Linked DNA regions of Homo sapiens. The protein of the gene in region 4 interacts with the protein of the main gene of each other region in a biochemical or structural test. Each region holds a gene or a part of one and is shown on either strand. Other genes may lie near its edges. The genes, in order: TPTE2, TPTE, ARHGAP31, TLN1, ITGA1 and FMO1.

Region 1 (3,500 bases), on a different chromosome or scaffold from region 4:
ATGGGCCTTGGGCCTCGGGGGGGTGCACGTAGCATGCAGTGGCTCTGTCAGTTGAGGGTAGCCAAGCCATTTTAGACTAGCCAGTCCTCAGATGACCCAGTAGCTGCCCACAGATACATGAATGAGCTTAGTTGAGACAGGAAATCCTTTCTGCAAGCACCTGAATTGGACAGTTAAGCCCATACCAAATTCACAAACCACAGTATCATGAGCCAAATAAATAGTTGCTGTTATAAGCCAGTAAGTTTTGGGGTGGTTTGTAACCACTGGCACAATTGTAACTGGTATCAATCCATTATGATTTTTTTACTTGAAAGAGTACATTTTTAAAAGAATACTGCCATATCTGGGTCAATATTAAACTTATGACTACACAGTCTACATTCACTGAGAAATGAGTATTTGTCAGATAAAGACCCTTACCTCAATTGGATTTCTATAGAAAGACTGCCTTCCAGAAGATGGAAATGACATAGCAATAATACGTTCTGAAAGTCAAAATCATCACTATTACAAACATTATTATAGATTTCATATAACACAAAAAAAATTAATTTATACATGATCAGACTCCATTTTCACAGAAAAAAAACTTTTAAAATTGAGGTTGACAGAAAAGAGCTAATACTCAGGATAATCAAATAACATATTAAATTATCCAACACAATGACCATTAAACTGGCATGGAGTTCTTAAGTCTCCACTAGTTCTAACTGTATGCCATGTACTTATGATGGCCTCAGTCTGAAGTTCCCCCTGTTCTTAGAATTTATTTCTTATCTTAAATACCAGAGAAAATCCAAGATTTCTGGGCACCAGTGACGGTGGGAACTCCCAAGGTGCTTTGCAGCCCTCTGACTCAGAAAACCTGAGATCTACAAAACACTGACCTCATTCTCTGGGGTTCTAGGATGAGAAGAGGTCTCTGTGGGATCCTTGGGACTCAGAAATAACTACAAGAGGTTAATAAATTGAAACTCAAATGGAGTCAGCTGAAAATCCATTCAAGTTCCTATGCTGCAACTGAGTAGTCCTGAATTGAGAAGACATGCAGATCTTCCATTGCCAGGGCTAAACCACAAATATGTCACACTATCACAGTGGCATATATTCTCAAGAATAAAGAATATTTTGAATGAATGTGTCTTAGATGAGGCAAAAAAATACAATTACAAGAAAAAGTGAAGTAATACAAGTAAATCAACCATTAAGTGTCACAAACCTGTAACGTAAGTGAGGTCTAGGTCAAATCCATCCCTTGTGTATCGCCTTTTGTTTTCTGAAACCTGAGAGTTTAAAATCATCATTAGTTTGTGAAACATTCATCAACATAAAAATAAAAAACATTATACAGTATAGATATCAACCCTTGCCAATGGGTCCCAAAACACAAAATATTTTTCTGAATCATAAGCATGTTTTGCCCACTTACCAGCCTTCTCATCAGCTTTTCAAGTTGTCTTTTTTGATGAAGCAGATGAAAAATTCTTATCAGAATAATAAGTCGTAGAAGTCGAACTAAATGTGTCCATCTAACAATAAATTTAAAAGATCCATTTTTGCTTCAGAAACAGAATTTTATCAATATAAACTATGTCTAGAGCAGCAGTTGTTAACCAGAGGCAATTTTCCCTCCTCTCCCCAATTACCTACCTGGGGGATATTTGGCAATGTCTGGAGGCATTTAGGTTTTCACAACTTGCGTGTGTGCATGTGTGTTTGTGTCTGTGTGTTACTTACATCTAGTGAATAGAGGCCAGGAATTTTGCTAAACACCCTACAATTAATATAACTGCTCACCACCCTCTTATGACAATGATCTGGCCCAAAATGTTGGTAATGCTGAGGCTGAGAAATTCTGGTCTAGAGAAATAGTGATACGATAGACTCTTAGCATTTGTAAATTTAATTTTGGGATTTAAGACTAGCATTTTCAATTTTTCCACATCAAAACAAATCGATTATTCTTGTTCATCTTTGTTATTCCCATGAGTAACAGATGTTCACTACAGCTGCTAATGCACATCAGGCAGGCAACAGATTGAGATACTTCCAAAGTGTGCTAGCTGGTATCTCTCCTGCCATCAGAACCACCAAAGCAGAGAACTGATGGTCTGGACTAGTGCTTCTCTGATTTGGGCACATGTCAATAAGAGCCACCTGGAAAAGCTTGTTAAGCTGCAGATTGCTGGGTCCCAGAGATACTGATTCAGTGGGTCCAGGGTGGGGCCTAAGGTATTTTTCTTCTTATATTTCTAGCAAGCTGTCAAGTGATGCTGAGGTTTCTAGTCAGAGAACCACATTGGCTGAGGTTATTTTCAAATAACTCCAAAAGCCAATCACTTAACATGCTTTTAGTTGGGGCCTGAGCTGTAGTCCAGGGAAGCTAGGGTACAAAAAGAAATCAGCTATTTGACCCATGAACAAGCTTAGGAAGCCACCATCTACATCCCAGTATACATTTGCTCTTTCATTTTCCTCATTGTCACAGTAAAAAAAGAAAAAGAGTCACCAGGGCCTCATACACTGTTAAGTTTTCCTAATCCCTAACAGTTCTAACTTTGCCTAAGCTTTCTTTGTTTCTACCACAACTATACTGCAAAACTCTACTATTGTGTTGCTACATGTGTCATCTCCTAGTTTCTGTTCTGTTTGCTATTTTTTAGAAACTCATGATTGAAATCACTCAAATTTTGCATATGCTCAAATAAATTCCCTCTTGGCTGTAGGAAAAATCCAGACAGAACATTATGTGTAAGGGATTTGTAGTTGAAGCACAGAGGGGAATTGTTTTCAATATAAGTTTTTTTGATATAGCAGATATTAAACTGATAAGAATATTATACTTGATCTTAGCCAAAAGGCCAAAAAATGATACAAATGGGAATTCGATGAGAACTTCAAAATGTAGAGAAGTTAAAGTTAGTACAAGAGTAAAAGTCCTTCTTTGGGTACTGCCATCTTCTTTATTCCATTAATGGTACTTAGCGTGTATATTCTTCACTGGTCCCTAAATATCACAATCTTTTAGTTTCAAAGTATGTGGGCATTTACCCAAACATTTCATTTTAAAGCAATGTATTTGGTATAGATGAGAACATTTGAAGTTGAAAAGATTATATAGAATAAAAGCCACAGAAAATGCTAAAAGTAATGAAAAACTTTAAGAGAGGTAAGTCTTATGTTTCATACCTGGGAATATTCCTAAGCAACTTAATGTCAAAAAAAATGTAAATGACATCAACCAGCAGAGGAATCACAATAATGGCAGTATCTAAAATGTTAAATAAGTCAGAAAAATACTGCTGTCTCCTGTAATATAAAAAAAAAAAAAAAAAAGTTCATTTCCCTCTGCAAGAAGAGACAGGAATATTTAAAGACCACAAACTACTGACTCATCCCCATTAAGAATTCTACTATCATGAATTATTTAAAATGTATTTTCTAGAGTAGACTAAGGGAAAAACATAACATTCATGGGAAGTTTTCAAACAATAAAA
Region 2 (3,500 bases), on a different chromosome or scaffold from region 4:
GTTGGTAATAAAAATTGTTTAGGACTCTCAAAAAAGTTTAATGAATCAAGATTTAAATACAATTATTACTGAACCTGATCATCATGTGTGGCAGCAAATTTAACTTAAATTTCCTTCAAATTCATGTCCCATTTGTAGGCACACATTATTCTTGCCCATTTTGATTTCCTAATTATCAAGTCCCTCCACCACCTTCATGCTCTTCATGAGTCACAGATATCTTTGCTTCTCCTCAAATAGGATCAAGTGACTAAACCTGAGGCAGGGGCTCCATCCAATGTGATGATGGCTTTGAGTTTGGGGCACCAGCTCTGAAGGGTGAGGGACAGATACAGGGTCTCTTAGCTCCTTTCTTGCTGCTGAGGGCTCCTCTGCTGCCTGTCCAATGCTACCACCTTCTTTCTCCAAGTAGGATTCTCTCCTCTCTTGGACCACTCTTGAAGAGAGTCTCATACACAGGCATTCTGATAGTTTCCTAAGGTTTTGGCTGCTAATTACTTAGAGTCACAAACAATCTTTGAGTACCAAGCATCCTTCTTCTGACCTGATCTTATTTTTTCCACTCTGGTTCAAAAACAATGTTACCAAAGATGCTTAAAGTCTCTGATAGAAAGCTGTTATTGCCATTGATGCTCCCAGTATTTTTCACCACTTAGATCAGTCAACTCACCCATTGTGGTCATAGTTGTCAAGAGCATACAGTAGAATCTGGTAGTGAATCCATAACTCTACCAAAGAGTAAAAAGCACATACAAAAAATAAAGTCAGATATTTTGGAAGGCAATGAGGATGTTAATCTCAACAGTATTTCAGGACACAAAAAATAAAATCGGAGGAATTTTGACAAGAACTAAAGAAACAATTTCAGGATACAGCACTAGTACTTCTGAGACTGTGTGTGTGTGTGTGTCTGTGTGTGTGTGTGAGAGAGAGAGAGAGAGAGAGAGAGGGGACACAGAAAAAAGAAAGAAAATGTAAGAATAATGAATGTTTCTATATCAATGGCTAGTTCCCGGTCATCCTTGGTAGGAAATAAACAAGTAGATAAGTCAAGCCTTAATTATGTTTAAAACATTTTGTGAACTTAAAGTGGATTATGTGTTTACAATGATTTTGTTTTCTCTTTGTCTGGATTCATTTTTTTAAAGTTATATGGCTATGTTTTACAATATCAAGACTTCCTAGCACCGAAACCCCTGGCTTGGCTAATTTAATCTCTCTGCTACTTCATTTCCTCATCTGTAAGTTAAGACACATGCAAAATACACTCCACATCTGTCAACTTCATAAAACCATGCTGAATATTCAGCATTTTGCCAATATTGGTTTTTAGACAACCTGCTCTCTACACCATATATTATGCCATAAAAATCAGTATGTGGCAATATAAACGGATACACATTTTTAGTTTCAAATACACAAACATTCTCATCAAGGTAATACACTCCCAAGACTCAAGAATTAATGCTCTTCACCACAATTTTCTAACTTTTCAAACGTTTAAATAAGTTTAAGAAACTGATCACATACATTTTTTTGCTGCTGATAACAACTGGGATTCTCTAAGAGTGTGCTGAGGTTTCTTAACCTATTTGACCACAGAACCTCTTTCTCACAGTGGAAATGTGTGAGAAACACATTTTGGAAACAATATATTAAATGGTATCTTTTTATGTCTTTAAGAAAAGTTCCCCTACACAAACTAATTTTGGACTCTGATCAATAGCTCCAACCTTTAAGCACAGATAGACATTAATATTGTGCTAGTCTTTCAGCCTGTGAGGAAAGGAGTGCCAGAGTTCAAATTATCGCATCTCGTTAGCCTGGTCTGAGGGCCATGAGGGGAACCTTTCAAGTTCTAAGTGGGTGTTCTCATGTCCTTGAATGGCTCCTGGAAATTCATCCAGGTCTCAGGAAAAACAATAACCTTTTACAAAAAGAAAGGCATCTATAGGCATCCGCTACTTTTCAGCAGGATGAATAATTGGATTGTCTATGCAGAATACACTAATAAATCATAACAGGGGAAAATGTTCAAAACACCAAAAAGGTAAGAATTTGAGTTTCTGACATAAGCAGCCTTATTAAATGATTACTAGATTTTTCAGACATCCTCTACTGAGGAAGAGAACTGGAAGACACTCAAATTACTCCAGATTCAGGTGACAAGCCAGGATTGCTAAGCAAGTTCCTTGGGAAACTAATCTCCAAAAAGGGCACGAGACATCCATAGATGTTACCTGAACTCCAGGGAGAGTACTGCATGAAGTCTGAAATAATACTTTGATAAGCTGCTTTGGGGCACAGAATGACTTCCCTCATGGGACATGAATAAGTAACTAGCTAAATTGCCCCCTAAGGAAGGTGAGAATTGCAAACCGTCCTAAACTGAAGTGGTCATGCAGAATTCTTAAATGCTTTTTGGTAGATAGGAGCAACCACAGAAGTTTGAGTTAGCTGAAGGTTAGCTACACCTTTATAATCATGCTACCAGGTTATAATGAAAAGTAGGTCTCCGACCAAATCTGCCACACATACAGATATTCATTTAACAAAACATTCAGTAGCAAGCAGACACAGTATATAAGCTTCTGTAAGCTTTCCGCACTTTAGGTACTCCAAGCATGAAAGCTTCATTCTCAACAGATTCCTAATGTTTCAGAGGCCAAAATCTTCCTAAACGTTCCTGGAGATAGGACCATATGAGGATCAAGCCTTGGGTGTCGTCTCTAAATATACACTACAGGCCACCCTCATACACCTTTATCCTGTTTATGCAAGGGTGGGCTGTCTCCAAAACACGTTAGTTGATTCACAGATCTTAAAATGTCATATAATTGTAACATCCATCATGCTGCTTTGTAAGCCGCCAATTTCACTAATAAAAACCCATTTGTGACCTTCACTGTAATAATTAACAATGTTTCAGGTGTTAATTGAGATGGGACCACTGAAGCCCTTTTGGTGGCCATCTCTGTGGAGTGGCTTCCTGAGCTGAACACTAGCTTACCATCCTTGAACAGAGCATCCAACATTAGGGCAACCAGCTGCCCCTGTAGGAAAGATTAAAGTGACCAGTATATGCATATTATCACACTGCCTAAAATGTCATAGAATGAGGCTTGGTTTGTTTTTTAAATTTTTTCTATTTCTATTATTTTTCTATCGAATTATTTTTCTATTTTTATTTGCTGGGTCACAGACAACAGCAAATTCCATACCTTCAGAGTTATACCAGCTCATCTGCAGTAGGAGTAGAAATATCAAAGCTCTCAGTCTACCACCTTGTGCTCCAGAGATGTGGCCCAAGCACATCTTTGGACGTGAACCAGGGCAACCCAAGGCAGAGCTGGATTTCTGGGAGTTTCTCCCTATAAGCCCTGGACATGCTTACCTATACACCAGACTGCTTCCAGAGCCACTGCCGGGCAGAAGAGCCTGGGGTGTGTTCAGCTGCTAGAATAACACAAGTCTGAGGTCTTGTGTCGTCGGTCCAACAT
Region 3 (2,416 bases), on a different chromosome or scaffold from region 4:
TTCTCTTTCTTCAGCCTTTTGACCACTTATTAATTAGTCCATTTGCTAGAAGAGTGGTCAAGGGAAAAACGAGAGATGAAATTTAGTTAAGTCTATGTGAGCAAGTGAGAGAAGGTTAGGTAAGGGGAGAGGATGGAATGCTTGCCTCCAATGAACTTTGGAGCTTGTATGTGAGTCAGATTGCTCCCCTATTGCTATTATCTATTACTCTTGAGAGCTGGCTGTCCTTTGAAAGAAAGAAGTAATGTTCTTTGAAAGAAAGAAAAATCTCTTGCTGTGTCAAACCTCAAAATGTTGCTATTGGGGTTAGAAGGCCTCCTCTTTATGCTTTTTAATGCTCTTTCAAACGTGTTCTTTTAGACCAGTTTTCTAATAAGCTTTGTAAAATGTACTATCCAAATTAGAAGCGGATTTGGAAATGCAAACTAACGTGCACTTAGATATCCAAGTGGGTGAGCTTAGCCACTCTTACCCATGCTCTTTCCCTGGAATCCCTGGAGACCTGTCCAAGATGATTTCCATATACCAGCATAGAAAATCAGAATCAAGAGCAAACTCTGAGACTGGCACAATCCAAGAAGATTTCCTGGCTCTGGCTTTTAGTAATTTGGGACTCCAACTGCCACTGTACTGGACTGTAATTTATAAATCCAGTAGCTACGCAGGGTGGAGGCTGGGCTGAGGATTACCATAATGAAATGTACTAAATCTTCATTTAGGTATGCAATTGTGAAGTGAAGGCATCTGCTTTCTTTACAGTATCAGAGTCCAAGAACAGGATGTCACCATAGATAAAAGCCTCATACAAAGGCAGAACTACACTCCAAATTTAATGTGTTTAAATTGGTGGGGCACCAGCAGAAAATATTCTAGCTCAGCTTTACTCTTCTTCCACACTAGGCTGGGCCCAGCAATACAGGAGAGGATGAAGGGAGGAGCTCCAGGAGGCGAGGGAAGAGCCCTAGCAGGGCGGCCATCACAACCACTCACTGAGAGTTGCCCTTCTTAAAAATGTATTTTATTTTAGCCAGTGGGTCCCTTCCTTTCTCCTTTCCTCTCTACTGCTCAAGAACAGATTTGAGGCCAGGTGCGGTGCCTCACATCTGTAATCCCAACACTTTGGGAGGCTGAGATGGGTGGATTGCTTGAGCCCAGGAGTTCAAGACCAGCCTGGGCAACACAGCGAGACCCCATCTCTTAAAAAATAACAGACTTGAGGAACCCCTCTCCCTTCCATAATTCCCCTCATCCACCGCCCACTCCAGGCACTCACTCAAACTTGCTCTTCAACTCTGTATACAAGCAGAAGCAATAAACCAATCTGATTTTCTTTTCAATTATTTATAACTTTCAATGGTTCTTTCCTTTCCAGCTGGCGAGAGAAAGGAGAACTAATATACCTGCTGGCAGATTTTTGGTGCTGCCCAAAAAAGGACTTCACAGGGCATCTCTTCTCAGGTTCAAGCCTGGCTGAATTCTGCCCAGAAGCTCAGTCATTGCAGAAATTTCTCTAAGGGCTGATAGTACCTCTGGGTAGGCGTCACAACCAAGGCTGGTTCTGGGCTTAGTGGGGGCTGAGATGAAGTTACCTCCTCCAATGAGAAATTGGGAGCTGATGCCCTGCAACAGATATATATTCCTCTCTCTCTCTGTCTCTCTATCTCTCTCCTCCCTCTCCCTCCCTCCCTCCCCGCCAATAAGCCTTACAAACAGTTTTGAAATCTTGTTCTGTACCTTTTAAGCCAGTGTCTGTGGCGAGGGTGACTGGCAAGTCAGCTGATGAGTTCTGCCTTCTGAGAGCACTGAGTGAGCAAGGCCTTTCATCAGTGTTTTGGCCTTCTCATTGGGTGAGGAAGACATTGAACCAACAGCCAACGAGATATGAACCTGTAAGAAAAAAGTCCTAGAATATAGTATTTTTCCCCAGGCCAGCAAAGTGAAGAAATACAGTGGTGACAGATGAGAAAGGCCATGTTCAAGAGATCTGAAAAGTACATTCCTGCCTTATCAGAAAATGTGTCAGACAGGTTTTATGTCAGCCTCAGTGCTCCTGCGGTGTCGACGCTCTGATAAGGACCATGTTCCAGTTAGAATGCGAGGGAGGGAAAGAGCTGCACTTTGCTTCACCATCAGAACTCTGAGCCAAATAATGAATATGTAAACTATTTTATGATTATTTTAAATGTTTGTTTGGTAACATTTATAAGATCTATTTTTATTTGGGGATAGACTGAGAAGCCACCATTTACATATTAACAAGTGACTTCAGTTCTAAGGGTTGAGATGCCTGTGTGGATTTATAAAATGGTTGCAAGATCTTTTAGACTCTGACATTTATAGCATCACCTTCAGGAACACAGTTCTGGGGATGTCATCATGAGACACACTGACAGCTGTGGAGATAGTCCCTACTCTC
Region 4 (3,500 bases):
GGGATGGGGCACAGAAAGGAAGAGAGTAGGATGAGACTGGAGAAGCAAGCAGAGCCATCACTAATGGGTTTTAAGTAGTGAAGTGACATAATCTAATATATATATATTTCTTGCTCTGTCACCCAGGCTGGAGTGCACTGGAGTGATCATAGTTCACTGCAGACTTGAACCCCTGGGCTCAAGGGATCCTCCTGCCTTCAGACTCATGAGTAACTGGGACAGGCATGGGCCACCTTGCCCAGCTAATCTTTAAATTTTTTGTAGAGACAGGATCTTGCTATGTTGTCCAGACTAGTCTTGAACTCACTCAAGTGATCCTCCCATCTCAGTCTTCCAAAGCGCTGGGATTTTACAGGCATCAGCCAGCATGTCCAGACTCTAATTTATATTTTAAAAACATAATTTTAGCTACTGTGTACAAAGGAGGATTGGAGGGGGCAAGTGTTGAAGCATGGTGACTGGATAGAGACTACTGCATAAATCCAGTTAAGGACTGATGATGGTTTGGACAGTGTGGTAGTGGTAGGAGATAAAAAGAAAAAATGAGCTGTATTTGGAAGGGGCACTAGCAAAACTTAGATGTGGGGAATGAGAGAAAGAGAGAAGTCTAATATATTGAAGCTAGGTTTCTGGCTTTAGGAACTGAGTTACTAAGAGGTGCCATTTACTGAGATGGGGGAAGACCAGGAAAGGACCAGGTATGGGAGGCAGAAAGTCAAGAGTTCCAACTTGGACATCTTCAAGTAAAAGTGAAAACAGAACCTTAGAAAGATGCATTTAGAAATTAGAAAGATGAGTAGGGAGAGAGGAGAGTGGCAGGGACCAGAAGCAGGGAGACCAGGGAGAAAACTGGTGCCACAGCCAAATTGCGGGAGAGTATGGAAGTGTGAACCAGAGTGCGGACAGGGAACCAGGGAGGAGGAATGAAAGGACGTGGCAACAGCCTGGATATGGTGGCTAAGATGGTGAAGTCAAAGATGACTGAGGTGGAATCTTCATGACTGCAAGGGTGTTCCCACCATTAGGAGGACCATGTCATGGTTCGGAGGCACTGCATCTAGGTGGTGATGTCAAACAGGCAGTTGAAAATAACTCAACTCAGAACTGGATGTCTGCTTCTTACAGAATAATAATGAAAGTGGTTAAACTTGCCAAAGAAGAGAAGAGAGAAGGAAGACTATTTGTACAACCCTGGGAAGGCCTCCACATTTACTAAGTTAAAGGTGATTCAATGACGTTCGAGAAACAAGAGAAAAGCCAGTATCTAGGCCAAGGGAAGAAAGAATTTCATTTTTTTTCTTTTTTGTTTTTTTTTGAGATGGAGTCTCACTCTGTTGCCCAGGCTGGAGTGCAGTGGCGCCATCTTGGCTCACTGCAACCTCTGCCTCCCGGGTTCCAGCGATTCTCCTGCCTTAGCCTCCCAAGCAGCTGGGACTACAGGCGCGTGCCACCACGCCCAGCTAATTTTTGTATTTTTAGTAGAGACGGGGTTTCACCATATTGGCCAGGCTGGTCTCGAACTCCCGACCTTGTGATCCACCCGCCTCAGCCTCCCAAAGTGCTGGGATTACACCCGCTGGCCTCCCAAAGTGCTGGCGTGAGCCACCATGCCCAGCAGAAGAAAGAATTTCAAAGAGAGGCTTGTTAACACAGTCAGATGCTTTCGAAATATTCAAAGAGGATGAAGGCCAAGAAGTGGCCACTGAATGTAGCAACTAAGAAGAGGCCACTAGTGACTGGAGAAAGTGGGAGGGTGGTGAAAAAATACAGTTGTCACATGCTAAGGAATAAACAAGTGGGTAGGGGACAGACATGAATGTAGCTCACTGGCACAGTGGCTCATGAGTGTAATCCCAGCACTTTGGGAGGCCAAGGCGGGTGGATCACTTGAGGCCAGGAGTTCGAGACCAGCCTGGTCAACATGGTGAAACCCCATCTCTACTAAAAATACAAAAACTAGCCAGCATGGTATGCACCTGTATTCCCAGTGACTCAGGAGGCTGAGGCATGAGAAGCACTTGAACCTGGGAGGTGGAGGTTGTAGTGAGCTGAGATCACGCCACTGCACTCCAGAAGGAGGGTGTGGGAGAGCTGGGGTAGGGGAAGTCACATGGTGACTGAGGAAGATGCCATGTGAAATGGAAAGGTCACCCACACCTGGGAGAAATGACAAGAGGAGAGGGCTGAGAAGGCTGGAGGAGGATGGCTACAGAGCAAGACCCTTCTCAAAAAAAAAGTCTGGCGATAGATGAGAGAGAAGACTGTGTGTGACTCCAGCTGTGAGTATATGTGTGGCACAGGTTCACAGGCTTTCAGGATCCCTCTCTCTGACCCTAGTCACTGATGCCCCAGACTCTCACTCACCGCCAGCTCCTGCCGTATGTGTTCTGTGGTTGCCTCCAGGGCCCGAGTGCCTTTGGTGGCCTCATCTTCCACGGCTTTTACTGTCTTAAGCAATGATGTCACATTGGTCACCATCACCTGGAGGTATCAGAGGAGTGAAGAGGAATGATTTTAAGGAACAGGAGGAAGTATGTTAATCCAGTGCCCCTCCTGATGTTGCTCTCATTCTCTCCAACCTTGGCAGAGTTCTTTAGCTGCCACACAGCAGGGTCATCTCCAACTTTGCCAGCTGCAGCCTTCGTTGCACTGATGAGGTCTCCCAGGGCTTTGGCTACATCTTTCACTGCGTTGATTAGTACCACCTGTGTGGGAAAGCGTTGGCTCTGGTCTATGGGAGGAAGAAGCGGGACAGGAAGTGATTCCAGCCGGAATTAGGGGCATCAGGTCACTACCTGGGTCTCAGGGTCCTCAGCTCCCAGGCTGGCTGCACCCAGCTTGACCACATCAGCGAGGCGGGTGATGGTCGCCACGGAGGACTGGGCAGCCTGCGCCAACTTCTCCTGGCTCCCAGCTGCGTTTTGCACCAGGACCTTGGTGTCCTCCACCAGCACCTTCGCAGTCTTCAGGATGCCCTCCCTGAGGGAGGGCCCAGCTTAGTCAGATCTCCCCTACCCGCTCCAGCCCGTCCAAGGTGCCTGGTCCAGGTCTTCCCCATTCCAGCGAATGCTATCCTGCCTCTTCCAGCCCCGTGCCCCGACCTGTCTGCCTCCCTTAGGCCCAGTTCCTGTCTTACCGGTGGTCAGCGAAAGTTTCAGTACCCTCACGATTGAGCGTGCCAGCAGTGGCGAACATGATGGTGGTGTCGAGGTCAGCAATGATACCAGACACAGCGCTGGCTGCTGTGATGCAGGCCTGGGTGCCACGATTCCCAGCCTGGAGCGCAGCCAGGACGTGGGAGACCTGGGTAGGGAATGTCACATGGTGACTGTGGAAGGTGCCATGTGAAATGGAAAGGTTGCCCATGCCTGGGAGAAGTGACAACAGGAGAGGGCTGAGAGGGCTGGAGGAGGATGGCAAAGGCTACAGAGTTTGGAGGCAGTCCCACCATCTGCAGGGATGAGCACCGTCACCTTCTCAGAGACTCTCCGGGCACACTC
Region 5 (3,500 bases), on a different chromosome or scaffold from region 4:
CACAACATGTTCTCTATCAATATCTATCTATCTATCTATCTATCTATCTATCTATCTATCTATCTATCTGTCTATCGTGTAATCTGTCTCAGTGGTGTGCTGAAGTCAGCTCACACTGGTTGGTAAGAGGTGGCAGATACATTTCCAGGAATTTTGTAAGCTGATTAGGGTCACTTTGGTAGTTTGAAAATGGAGAGAGAATATTTGGACCATGGAAATTGGCAAATGATACAAATCAGAGACTGTTTTTTTTTTCCCTCCTGGACAGTGTGTTGTTAAATAATTTACCAATATACCATTGTAGTTTGGTCAGAAAAGAGAGTGCATACATGGTTCAGTTTACAATGGGAGCAATAATCAATTATTTAGAATACCAAAGTTAGAGAAAAAGAAACTTTTTGGCAATTTGGCCAATAAGTTTATAAATAGTCTTAAATATCACCTGTTTTTCTAATTAAATGTTTTAAAAGTAAATGATAGAGTCTAGTACATTTCTTAATCATTAAATATGTTTTATAACATTTGTACAAAGCTGTTTTGAAACATTTGTTGACTTTTTTTAATCAAACGCTCTGTACTTGTTTTTTAAATAATTGCAGAACTATAAGTTAAACCTAAATATTAATAAAAATGAAACTATATGAAACTATATGAAACTAGATGAATCAAACTTGTCTTGCAGATATAGCTTTTGTGTTTATTTTCTGTAAACTCTGTTTTTTGGTGTTATAGAGCTATTTTTGTATTCAATTTATATGTGTACATGTGTCTGCACATGCACACACACACACACACAAACCTCAACAAATTATAATATTAGAGAAACAGGACTTCTGGTTCATGAAATATTTTACTTAATAGCCAGGAATGACTTATGTTAAAAATTGTGCCGGGCTTATAAGTATCTCTTTGATCTGGCCAACAGCTCTTCCTCTCTTTTCTAAAAACTTCAAAATGCCCTCATTTCTATTTTTTCCCTTTCAGTTAACAATTTAGTTTAAAAGTGCACACTTATGGTTCAGTAAATGGGCTTTGTCTAGTAGTCACAGATGCTGAGTATGAATTTCAATGGATCCGTTAGCTTTACTACTAAGATCTTGCTGAGATCAGAGAAGGGCTTCTGGGCAGGCTGAGCACTGGGGGTGTGCAACATGGTAACTCTGAATAAGAGAAACCCTGAGTTTTACTGGGCAAAGAAAGAACAAGTGGTAGGTATGATTTCTGAACCTGGAAATAGCGAAAATGAAGGAAATTCCAAAAGCGCGTATTTCCAAATAATGACAGGCCAGCAAGAGGACACCAAACCTCTAGAAAGAGGTATTCTTTCTTCCAGCTACTGATGGCTTTGGCATCCCACAGGCGCATTCCTTTGGCCTTCAGGATCTTAGATGCGGATGTGGAGAGTCAAGAGGTAGGCTGACTCTGAGTCTTCAGCTAAATTCTTTGGAAATTAGTTTAAAAAAATAAATTTATAACATTTAATTTCTATGTGGATTTGCTCCTCTTTGAACAAAGCAGAGCCCAGGAGTTTCTGGATGAATACATGTTCTGGTCTTGTTACAGGTTCTGGTAAATCAGATGGAGAAATGTTGTTGCAGAAATGTCAGCAAACTTTACAGCAGTAGTTCACACATGCAGCTACTATACATTCATTCATTGCTATTTTCCTAAGAAATGGAGCAACCTAGGAGCTTATGCTACAGTAGATTCCAATGAACCATAATGACTACTTCAAGAACAAAGAAGCACATACAAAGGTGTGATATCTTCCTGTTGGTTTGAGTTTTCAAACCTGAAATTCTTTAAAATACATTTCTGGGATTTTATTTAAATATTGATGCAACACACCTAAAAAGCAGTGACTTCTTGGTAAAATGTAATACTGAAATGGAAAATTGTCTTTTCAAAAAAATAAGAAGTGTGGTTGGAAATTAAATACCTTTTAAAAAATTAAAAATAAACACACTCTCACAGCTTGGGGGTTTGAATGAACCCTGTACCAAGGAGTTGAGACAACTCTTTCTTTGGGTCACATACTGGAACCCTTAGCATTCAAAAGCTGCTCAGCAAAGATAATTTCAGCATTTCAGTGGCATCTTTCTCTGCTGTCGTATTTCATTCAGAAGCCATTTTAGCATGTCCCCCATATATGGCTTTTCATGACAAATCACTGTGATGCCACACAAAACTACTTTAAGTGTTTTTTCAGTATAAAAGAGTTTTGCATTTAGAGCTCAATATCAAAATTAAGCATGTTCTGTAAAAGCTTAATTTAACCCATTTAATATACTTGTTTTTAAACGAGTCTATCCTGATTTTCCATCCTAGATAAAATTTTAGCTCAATTGCAGTACTTTCCAATCACCTTGGGCAGGGAGGGAAAATTTTTAGGTATAGAACCCAACACAAAGATGCTAAATGTATTCTTGGTGACTTAATTTTCAATCCATATTGTATATGGATTCTACCAAGGGAAAATATTCTCATTTGAATAGGGAGAAATGATCTTTTTCAGGTAATTCTTTTCTTGGCATTTACGAGTGCTGACTGTCATGCTGAACATGGATATCCAACAGGAATCAAGGGGAAAAGCTTAATTTATATTGTTTTGAAAATAGATGTTTCTATGATCATAAAAATCTTTTTATATATTCCTTAAATATTTTGGATGGTGATTTAATACATAAACATATTTGTACAGGTTTTTTTAAAAACACTTTGTAATTTTGCTTACTCAACAAAAATGAGTAATTATGTAAAATATTTTTTGTCATTTTATAAAATATGTCTTTTTGGTATTGTTTTTGGATAATGCATGACCTGTCATTTTCCAAGTAATGAATCCCTGATGGATTACATAGTTACATGACTATGTCATGAATTATACATTTCTTGTCACATATTTGAGGCAAACCTGAGGATAGATTATTGAATAATTGTTATTATTTTCTTTCATAAAATATTTCATTTCTCCATTTTCTTTTTCAGTGGTCTTTTGAAGAATCCAATCTGTTGAGAAAACACAAAACATAACACAATTAACTATTTTAATTTAGGTAGCAAATATTAATCCTTTGGATAGAATTAAATTTAATAGTATATTGGCAATGCTGGGCACACAACTAATATAATTAAGAAATATTTTCTCATTGACCTATTAATATTCAATGTCAAAAAATGACATTTATTAAATTGCTGTTTCTTTTTTTTTCTTTTCTTTTTTTTTTTTGAGACAGTCTCACTCTGTCACCAGGCTGGAGTGCAGTGGCGTGATCTCCGCTCACTGCAACCTCCGCCACCCGGGTTCAAGTGATTCTCCTGCCTCAGCCTCCTGGGTAGCTGGGACTACAGGCATGCACCACCATGCCCAGCTAATTTTTGTATTTTCAGTAGAGACGGGGTTTCACCATGTTGGCCAGGATGGTCTCTATCTCTTGACCTCATGATCTGCCTGCCTCGGCCTCCCAAAGTGCTGGGATTACAGGCGTGAGCCATCGCGC
Region 6 (3,484 bases), on a different chromosome or scaffold from region 4:
TGAAACTGCTGCTTTTGACACGATGTTTGCTTTTGTTCCTCTTTTTCTTTCCCTTTTTTCCTCTCCCTGCTTTCTCTCCATTAAAAGCTTCTTGGCTGTGCTCTTTATCTAATGAATTCCAATTGAATTTGGTTGGTTCTCATTGACTCTTTAAAAGGAGGCAGCTCCATTTGCCTCTTACAGCAGGGTTGTGAAGGAGGATCTAAGCAGGTAGGCTTTTTCCTTTGGCTGCTGGAGGCTGGTTCTAAGAGCCCGTGGAGGTGGTGGTTTTCTGTGGAATCTGATTTGGGTCTTTGGGAGGCCAGCTGGAGTAACAGCTTTGTTATAAAGAGTGTTCTGGAGGAATGAACAGTCCCAGGCAGGTACAGTCCTTTGGGAAACTCTCAAAGTAACTCATTGAACCCCCTATCCTTTTATGAGCTTTATTCATAGAATCCTCATCTTTTTCTCCCTTTTCCCAATCTTTAATAAGAGAACAAAAGATCACTTAAAACAATCAATTTTTAGGTTTATTTTTTACTTTTAATAAGCCAGTACTATAAGAGCACCATTTCAGCACAACACAATCATTTGTGAAGTAAGGGGTTTTAGTTGAGATCTGTGAAAATAGTTTATATGGGAAAGAGGTATGATGGCTCAGAGTGCTGTCAAGAACAGCTTTCTTTCTAAAATGAACCTGTAACTTTCCAACAACCTTCAAATGCACAGAAGTCTTAGTTATCATTCTCTAGCATTAGAAGTGGAGCTGGGAGAGGCTCAGGAATACCAGTGGTAGCCCTGGGGCCAGCCAGGGAAGCGAGAGGGTGGCCTTTACTATTTGAATACAGTTTATAACTGTGAAGGCAATATTGCTGTAAGAGAGGAATTGGAGCATTGTAAATCTACTCTGTGCATCTTCCATTTAGGAGATCTTTTACTTATAGGAAAATCAGAAAAATAGCCACAAGCAAAGCCAGAAAGCTAAAGACTTTAAGAAAACTTTCAAAGGGAGATGGAGACTCTTGTACAACTCGAGCTTTGATGACCTTGAATGTTCGGTCCCACTGGGTCATGATGGCATTTCTGGCTCCTTCCCATTTTCCTGGGCCAGTCAAGCGGAACTGGTATGGTGAGCATGGGCCAAAGAAGACGGTCAGAGCCAGATGTGGATCCGTTAGGAGCATAGAGAACAGGTTGGGTTTTGCATTGATATAGGTCAGGAGTTCATCTATGTATGTGATATAATCTGATTGTAAAGCCTTGCAGTAGCACAAGCCAAACCTTTATAAAAGGAAGATTGGGGGAAAAGGTGAAGACAAAAAAACTGATAATCTTAGAACAAGTACAAGTGCCCAAAGCAAACAAATACTGCTGCAGAATTTGGGATGGTTTCTGCATTTTCCCCTTTATTTCCCTACCTATCTAACGGTCTCCTTCTGTTTCTTAAATCAAGATGAGTCCCTTCAAAAGATACTTTATACATATGGCTTTTAATGGGTGCTCTGAGTGCTCATAATGCATCTTAGTTCTTTTGTGAAATAATTAGCAATTTCTAGAGGAAAATATATTTTAAAATTTCTAAATCTTTATAAAATTCCATTATTCAGTAATAACAAATCCAATGATTTATATAATGTGAAAAGCCACAAAAATCTATAGGGTAAAATTCCCTGAAATGCTGGTATTAGGCTTTAATTAATTAATTAATTTTTCTTTTCCTTTTCTTTTTTTCTTTTTTCTTTTTTTTTTTTTTTACAAGGTCTTGCTCTGTCACCTAGGCTGGAGTGCAGTGGCATGATCATAGCTCACTGCAACCTTGAACTCCTTGGCTCAAGCGATCCTCCTGGCTTAGGAATAGGTGGGACTACAAGCATGAGCCACCATGCCTAAATAACTTTTATTTTTTTTGTAGGGATGGGGGCTTGCTATGTCATCCAGGCTGGTCTCAAAGTCCTGAGCTCAAATGATCCTCTTGCCTTAGCCTCCCAAAGTGCTGGGATTACAGGCATGATCCACTGCACCTGGCCCCTAAAATTGTTTGCTGACATGCGTGACAAGAAGATTTTCATTTTATAGCAGTTCTAATTAGTTATCTATTACACTGGAGTTCCATAATGAAGATCAAATCATATCCCAGGTTGAGGATAAAGAAGAGACATCTAAAATGCTATTATTGTTTTGGAATTTGGTACCTTGACAAGGATAGATCAACCCTTGAAGTTTGGGAATATATATGAACAAGAGAGTGATAATAAGTTCCTTAGATGCAATGATTTTAAAACTTGCTGTTTTTTGTTTTTTTTTTTTTGCCACAGAACCTTTATTTCAAGTGAAAATGTATATCAAACGCAGAAACAGATGAACAGATAAAACAAAGTGGTTTTATCAAACCACAAAACAATCAGAAATGTTTTGGTTGGATTGAGAGTGAGAGGGGAGGGCCAAGACTCTTTACTTTGCTGGCCATCAGTCTTCCATTGTCTCTAGCCTTGAGTGGTAGCCACAGAGCACAGCATAAGTGAAAACCTTTCCCATAGAGAAGTGCTCAATAAACTTTATTCTGAAAAAGGCCAGACAGTAAATGTTCAGGCTTTGAGAGCCACATTACAGTTTCTATCTCAACTGCTAAACAACTTTGGTACTGTAACACAAAAACAGCCATTGACAATATGTAAATGAATAACCATGGCTGTGTTCTAATAAAATTTTATTTATGGCCAGTATGGTTTCCATTTCATATGATTTTTTCACATGCTACAAAATTTTGTTTTTCTTCTTCCTTTTTTCCAGCCAATTATAAATGAAGAGCAAAAGCCACACTCCGAATAAAAACAATAGAGCTGATAGAGACTTGTTCAGTGAATGAATGAGCAGACACTTCTAGTGTCAGAGTAAATAGGTACAACTGCTTGCCTGTTGATTATGGATAAGATATGGAATAATGTACCTGGTAGATTAGGGTTAATTATGTAGTACTTGATTTGGAATCCAAACTCTATGTGATACTAGAAAACCATGGGCTGAAGTGATGACTTTGGGGACATTAAAAATTCTAAATTCCCCTTTCCCTTCTCTCTTCTTAAACAGGCTCTCCTAGTATTTTTCTTGTAAGTCTCAGATGCTTCTTTTTTTCTCCAATGTAACTTTCATCTCTCTGCTATTGTTTTTTTTTCTTTTTCATTTCCTTTTTTTTTTTTTTTTTTTTTTTTTTTTTTTTACCAATTTCAGTTATAATTTAAAAAGGGTGCATTAAGTAGTTAACTTACCAACTGGGCTTGTTTTCTTTCCTTGCATTAATTTCCTCTATCATGACACTTGGTGGTGGTAACTTATTTACACCTGTAGGATTAAAATAAAAACCTCAAATGCAACTTAAGTTTAGGTCTAGCTGTTGACTTATGGATAAAGATGCTTTACTATGGCTCTCCTTTCACGTCTAGTACCAGCTACTCATTGATCCTTCTGGCAAAAATGTTAGCAGCCTGAGCTGACTGGTTGTATGCTC

What was found.
Region 1: the proteins of TLN1 (region 4) and TPTE2 interact in a surface display test, tested with the Homo sapiens proteins (one large-scale study listed by IntAct).
Region 2: the proteins of TLN1 (region 4) and TPTE interact in a test that uses a peptide from one of them, tested with the Homo sapiens proteins (one study listed by BioGRID and IntAct).
Region 3: the proteins of TLN1 (region 4) and ARHGAP31 interact in a test that uses a peptide from one of them, tested with the Homo sapiens proteins (one large-scale study listed by BioGRID and IntAct).
Region 5: the proteins of TLN1 (region 4) and ITGA1 form a complex in vitro, tested with the Homo sapiens proteins (one study listed by BioGRID).
Region 6: the proteins of TLN1 (region 4) and FMO1 interact in a test that uses a peptide from one of them, tested with the Homo sapiens proteins (one large-scale study listed by BioGRID and IntAct).

Annotation. Positions count from the first base shown.
Region 1 is NC_000013.11:19,464,033-19,467,532, forward strand, and holds part of TPTE2 (phosphatidylinositol 3,4,5-trisphosphate 3-phosphatase TPTE2), read right to left. Parts: intron 3,313-3,500; coding exon 3,193-3,312; intron 2,877-3,192; exon of another isoform or gene 2,780-2,876; intron 1,533-2,779; coding exon 1,433-1,532; intron 1,287-1,432; coding exon 1,223-1,286; intron 489-1,222; coding exon 424-488; intron 1-423. UniProt on the Homo sapiens protein: Acts as a lipid phosphatase, removing the phosphate in the D3 position of the inositol ring from phosphatidylinositol 3,4,5-trisphosphate.
Region 2 is NC_000021.9:10,524,583-10,528,082, reverse strand, and holds part of TPTE (putative tyrosine-protein phosphatase TPTE), read right to left. Parts: 5' UTR 3,395-3,500; intron 729-3,394; 5' UTR 671-728; intron 1-670.
Region 3 is NC_000003.12:119,416,383-119,418,798, forward strand, and holds part of ARHGAP31 (rho GTPase-activating protein 31), read left to right. Parts: 3' UTR 1-2,416. UniProt on the Homo sapiens protein: Functions as a GTPase-activating protein (GAP) for RAC1 and CDC42. Required for cell spreading, polarized lamellipodia formation and cell migration.
Region 4 is NC_000009.12:35,701,196-35,704,695, forward strand, and holds part of TLN1 (talin-1), read right to left. Parts: coding exon 3,474-3,500; intron 3,304-3,473; coding exon 3,137-3,303; intron 2,980-3,136; coding exon 2,796-2,979; intron 2,706-2,795; coding exon 2,580-2,705; intron 2,482-2,579; coding exon 2,365-2,481; intron 1-2,364. UniProt on the Homo sapiens protein: High molecular weight cytoskeletal protein concentrated at regions of cell-matrix and cell-cell contacts. Involved in connections of major cytoskeletal structures to the plasma membrane.
Region 5 is NC_000005.10:52,951,916-52,955,415, reverse strand, and holds part of ITGA1 (integrin alpha-1 precursor), read right to left. Parts: intron 3,010-3,500; coding exon 2,965-3,009; 3' UTR 1-2,964. UniProt on the Homo sapiens protein: Integrin alpha-1/beta-1 is a receptor for laminin and collagen. It recognizes the proline-hydroxylated sequence G-F-P-G-E-R in collagen. Involved in anchorage-dependent, negative regulation of EGF-stimulated cell growth.
Region 6 is NC_000001.11:171,282,978-171,286,461, reverse strand, and holds the end of FMO1 (flavin-containing monooxygenase 1), read right to left. Parts: intron 3,319-3,484; coding exon 3,246-3,318; intron 2,540-3,245; coding exon of another isoform or gene 2,539-2,539; exon of another isoform or gene 1,965-2,538; intron 1,261-1,964; coding exon 918-1,260; 3' UTR 501-917; downstream 1-500. UniProt on the Homo sapiens protein: Broad spectrum monooxygenase that catalyzes the oxygenation of a wide variety of nitrogen- and sulfur-containing compounds including xenobiotics.